Regions from separate parts of the Homo sapiens genome. Here region 2 is linked to region 1. The links come from fine-mapping of genetic effects on gene expression. A gene starts in region 1. The other region holds a variant in brackets. All regions are shown on one strand. Distances are from middle to middle.

Region 1 (2,910 bases):
GTCCAAAGTAAAATGTAAGTAAAATTCCTGATGTAGTTACTCAAAGCAATTTGGGGGCATATTATTGTTTAAAAGGAAGTTAACCAAAACAGATATTGCTTGACAATATGTTATTTCATCAAGATATCTCATTTTCTTCTTTTGAAATATTTTGCATTAGCAATTATTAATGGTTTTTAAATCTCAGATTTTTGGCTGTATATTTTGTTTCTTGAATTATTATCTCGAATTATTATCTTATGTATGACATATGCAAGCACAACTACATATAAAATCCCTTAAATAGTTAAAACTTGATCCTTACAGCAGAAAAATATTTGTTAATAGCCTCCCATGATACAGTAAAATTCCTTTTGGAGTAAAATTAAAAATAATTGCTGTTTGATAGTACTGTTATTCTTTAATAGTGCTACATAGTAATCTGAAGTAGTTAATGGAAACTCCCTCCACCCCCACCTTTTTTTTTTGGTACCTAACCTTTTAAATAAAAAAGGTTTTACTAGGGTTTTGTCTCAGAATCTGGCTCTTGAAATAAATGCATTTAAATTTGAGCTTGATTTTCTCTCAACTCCTTCCCCCAAAGAAGACCCTGTTATTTCCTTGTAAAACCATCACTAATATTCCATTTGCTATCGTTGCATGATATCCCTTTTGCCATAATGGCAGAGCCAGGCAATTCATTTCTAGGTATCTTCATTGCCTGCTCTTCTGATTTCTTAGGTCAAGATCCTTTCAGTGAATATGGTCTTGCCCTGTGAAATTCGGTGTCAAGCTGGTGATTCAGTGCTTGTCAAATTCCTTAGTGAGCCGCAGAGACTGATTTGTGACCTTCAAGGCTCAGCTTCAACCGTCCCCACAGGCAAGTGAAAGTCCCATTTCCTTCTTTGTCTTCTTGCCTGCTGGCTTCAACCATCCCCACAGGAGCGTGACAGTTCCGTTTCCTTTTGGGTCCTCCTGTCTGCTGGCTTGAGTCCCGGGGCTCGTCCTCTCCCCTACCCCACACAGTTGGTCCTTCGCCGCTCGCCTGCCCCACGCTCTGGTCCCTCCTCTTTCCTCCTCACCTCCCCTCAAGAATTCACTCTCAGTCCTGAAGCCTGGGTCCCCTGGCTCCCTCTCCGTCATCCTAGTGTCCTTAGGGACCTAGCAGAAATAAAGGATGGGGGCCGAGGACCCGCGGATGTGAGAGAAGTGCCTGAGACAAAAACCTGTATGGACCCAGAGCACTGTAAGGAGATAAGAAGAAAAGCATCTCTATGGAAAAAGCGGGAGTTTCGAATCGCTTTCTAGCGTCCTTAGCGGCCTAGCAAAAATAAAGGATGGGGGCCGAGGACCCGCGGATGTGAGAGAGGTGTCTGAAAAGAAAAGCCTGTAATGGACCCAGAGCACTGTAATGAAATATGAAGAAAGGAATCTCTATGGAGAAAGCGGGAATTTCGAACCGTCAATAGAATTTGGAGTGTACCTGCTGTTGCTCCTAGTTCCCCACAGTCTCCCTTTCCGCTGCCTCTGGGGCCTGGTACACCCCTGAATGCTGTCCCCTCCTCCGGAAGCCGAATCCCCCAACAATGGGCCCGCCTTTCTCTGGGCCCGCCCTGTGCGCTATGCTGGAGCTCCTACCACCAGCAGTTCTTACCAACTTGGCCCAGCTCCGCTCAGCATCTGCGGCTGCTTAGGTATTTTCATGTGGTTTCCAGAACATGAATCAACACCGGATCAATAATTGTTTCCCCAACCAAAGAATAAATCACATTGGGTGTTCTGAATTGTGAGTCAGCTCCATTGAATAAATAATTATCCATATCTATTTTTGTAACTTATAAAATTGCCTTTTAAAATTCCAGAGCCAGTTAATAGATATGGTTTCCCATCTACAGAGTTATATCTTGGTAGCTTAATGATTAAGGGCGTGGGCTCTTGCGTGGATTCAAACCCCAACTCTTCTCTTTTTCCGTGGGTGATAGTGGGTAAGTTCTTAATTTCATGCACCTAAGCATCTTCATCTGTATAAGAGATTAATTATAATGCCTGCCTCTGCCGGGCGCTGTGGCTCACGCCTGTAATCCCAGCACTTTGGGAGGCCGAGGGGGGTGGATCACCTGAGGTCAGGAGTTGGAGACCAGCCTGGCCAACATGGTGAAACCCCGTCTCTACTAAAAATACAAAAATTAGCCAGGCGTGGTGGCGGGCTCCTGTAATCTTACCTACTTGGGAGGCTGAGGCAGGAGAATTGCTGGAACCCGGGAGGCGGAGGTTGCAGTGAGCGGAGATCGCACCATTGCATTCCAGCCGAGACCCGCAGCAGCAAGACTCAGTCAAAAAAAAAAAAAAGAAGCCTGCCTCTTAGGACGGTTGTGATGATTAAATGAAGTGATGCATTTATAAGGTGCTTAATGGAGATCCTTGCTTAAAGTAAGTGTTCAGAAATGTTAATTATTAGAATTTTTGAATGTTGTTCAGTAATAGTTTGAAAGCGAATCCACTGCCAACTTTGCTCATCTGCTTTTTTTTTTTTTTCTGAGTGGGAGATGGGAGGTTTATTTTTGTTAATGTGATTTTTCGATAGACTCCAAAATTTGGCAAGTGAAAAAATATAAACAGTAATATGATAACCCATACTTTACTAGTTGAAAGGTAGTGTGGCATAATGGCAAGAAAATTAGGTTAAAGTGGAAAATGGGGGTTGTAGTCTTCACTCTGCTGCTCAAATAAGCTTTCCCTAACATTAGTAGCAACACATAGAAATATTGAAAATGACCTGCTGAATTGCGGGTTCTACCCAATTAGCAAATATAAAATGTTCCATGTAACTCATGTCATAATAACTTTTGAAACAAGCCCATTTTAAGACCCTAAATGCTAAAATGCTACCTTCTCCATGAGTCATTCACTGATCGTATCAATCAGTTGTGA
Region 2 (2,910 bases), 150 kb before region 1:
AGGCCCTACCTCTCAATATTGCTACATTGGGGATTAAGTTTCAACATGAGTTTCAGAAGGGACAAATATTCAAACCACAACATCCCTGAATGGCAATTAATTGTAAAGAGAAATTAATTGTTATCTTAGATGACATGATCGTGATTTCAATTTGAAACCTTTTGAAGGTCTAGGGGATAAAGGGACTATGAATGCAGCCCTGGCTTTGGCTCCCTCAGGGTGGCCTCTGTGTGCAACACCCAGGTTAGATTATCTGCTAAGATTTCCTCTGGGCTGGCCAATCTGAAAGCAATATGGAATTGTGTAATCCAAGGGCTCCTGAACACAAGGGAAAAGGTGTTTCATCCAGTCTCACAGCAGGAGACATCAGCTTTTGAGTTTTTACACTTTTCTGGCCAAGTGCCTGGTCCTAATCAGATCATAGGAAGCATAGTGGTGATATTAATTCTAGAAGCAAATTGTAACAGAAGATGGAATTACTGGTATTAACATAAAACCCTAACATCTTAGACGAAACTCAATCTGTGATAGGGTGGTTTAAGTGATAAAAAGAAAAGGTACTCCTTAACCTGTGGAGGGAAAGCTCTTTTGAGGAACCCTGGTTAATAGTTTATTATTGCCCCAAACCACATTGCTAGTCCTGGAGCAGAGACTGCAATCTTGTTCTCCAGGCAGAGAAAAGCTTGAGGAGAGGTGTGTCCTCAAAGACAACTTGGGATGTTAGTGAGAAGCAGGGCAGTGGTAGTCACTCAATTCTTTCATTTCCTTCTTGTCTTTTATTTTCTATTTATTTTTATTGTGGTAAAATACATATAACAAAATTTACCATCTACCATGAATTCTGAGTCTATCTAGAAGTAAAGTTCCTTAGCATATTCTTGATTACACAAAGATAGTTTTTATAATTTGGAAATCTTTGAGGTACTTTGGAGAAGAAGAACTAAATAAGGAATGATCTCCATCATAGACTTCTTGCTCCTAGTACTTTGGAGAGGAAGAACTAAACAAGGAATGATCTCCAACATAGAAACTTCTTGCTCCTGTTGCCTCTATCTAGAAGGCAGAGTCCCAAGCAAGTTTACAATAACATCATGAGGGTCCCCACTGGGGTGTGAGGAGCTCCTTCCAGGGCATTGGTTGAAGGCAGTGGTGCTGTTGATGCAAGGATACCCCCAGAATTGGCATTCAGCCAG[G/A]GAAGCCAAGTGGATACTTTGCTTGTACCAGAAAGAATTCAAGAGCAAGCCAAAAGAGTAATGTGAAAGCAAGTGTATTAAGGAAACAAAAAGAAGGCTACCCCCGTAGTCAGGGTAGCACCAAGGGACAGGGCAGCTAGCTGGCTATTTTATGGCTATTTCTTGATTATATGCTAAATGAGGGGTCGACTATTTCTTTAGTTATCTGGGAAAGAGGCAGGAGCTTGTGGACCGGGGGTTTATCTACCTTACAGAAGATACAGAGTAACTCTTGGGGATTGCCATGGCACTTATAAACAGTCATTGCTCTGGTGGTAGTCTTTTAGCATGCCAATGCATAATAATTAGCATATAACGAGCAATGAAGGTAACCAGAGGTAGCTTTTATGCCATTTTCCTTCTAGCTGGTTTGGGCTTTTTTAAAACAATTTTTAAATTTTTTTTAAGGAATCTTGTACCGGGTACTGTGACCTGTGTCTTGGGGACCTAGCATCCTGTTTGTCTTGAGAAACTAGTCCTGCCAAACTCCTATCTCACTGTGAGTAATGAGCAAGAAAAGTTTTTTTTCCCTTTCAGGGTTCTTCAGTATTTCAAGCCTTGATTGTGAGCAGTTTAAGGAGACGTCCTGGGTATGTGTCTGTTCAGCTCTGCAAGCGCTGGCATCTCCTGGCTGGTTTGGGACCCACTGAACCCTGCTATTGGCAGAATCCATCTTTTTTTTTTTTTCCGAGAGGGAGTTTCGCTCTTGTTGCCAGGTTGGAGGCCAATGGCGCGATCTCGGCTCACTGCAACCTCCGCCTCCCAGGTTCAAGTGAGTCTCCTGCCTTAGCCTCTCAAGTAGCTTGGATTACAGGCATGCACCACCATGCCTGGCTAATTTTGTATTTTTAGTAGAGACGGGGCTCACCATGTTGACCTGGCTGGTCTCGAACTCCTGACCTCAGGTGACCCATTTGCCTCAGCCTTCCAAAGTGCTGGGATTACAGGCGCGAGCCACCATGCCTGGCCTAATCCATCTTGTCTTAAAGCGACTGGAGCTACTTTGTGGTTTCAGCCACTGACTTCTGGACATGTGGGTTTTGATGGCGATTGGGTCCCTCTTGAGTCTGAGAACAGCTCTGAGCCTGCTGGAAACCCAAAACAGCAGCCCACACACACCTGATTTTACATCCTCACAGAGCAAAGGGCATTGGCAGGAGTGGTGTTCAGCACAGCAAGTGATCTAGTGCCCAGGCACAGGTTTGTTCTTGGTCCTGTCCTGGTGGCATGTGACAAGCACTCTGGACCTGCCTACCTCCAAGACTGTTCTTCCAGGGTTGGTGGACAGAACTCCATGGGTTCAGCCTTGTGATGAGGCCAGCCATGTAGCTGAACTAGGAAAAGAGGTAAATGACTCAGGCTAGTACTGAGTGTGTGTGTGTGTGTGTGTCTGTGGGTGGGTGTTTGAGATGGAGTCCTGCTCTGTCACTCAGGCTGGAGTGCGGTCGCATGATCTTGGCTCACTGCAACCTCTGCCTCTCGGGTTCAAGCGATTCTTCTGCCTCAGCCTCCCGAGTAGCTGAGACTCCAGGTGCGTGCCACCACCCCCGGCTAATTTTTGTATTTTTAGTAGAGATAGGGTTTCACCATGTTGGTCAGGCTGGTCTTGAACTCCTGACCTCGTCATCTGCCAGCCTTGGCCTCCCAAAGTGCTAGGATTACAGGCATGAGCCACCAC

What was found. PIP is the estimated chance that this variant, and not a neighbour inherited with it, causes the effect.
Region 2: its variant is fine-mapped to the expression of CCDC152 in whole blood (INTERVAL, PIP above 0.99).

The regions. Positions count from the first base shown.
Region 1 is chr5:42,755,438-42,758,347 of GRCh38, reverse strand. It overlaps CCDC152 (coiled-coil domain containing 152), which reads right to left and starts at 1,530. Exons shown (of 9, transcript NM_001134848.2): 1 at 1,463-1,530. RefSeq lists enhancers at 474-973, 974-1,475.
Region 2 is chr5:42,903,393-42,906,302 of GRCh38, reverse strand. No RefSeq gene overlaps it. Among named protein-coding and RNA genes, the nearest start is that of FLJ32255, 88 kb to the left of the region's middle. The variant G/A (reference allele first, on the strand shown) is at 1,194.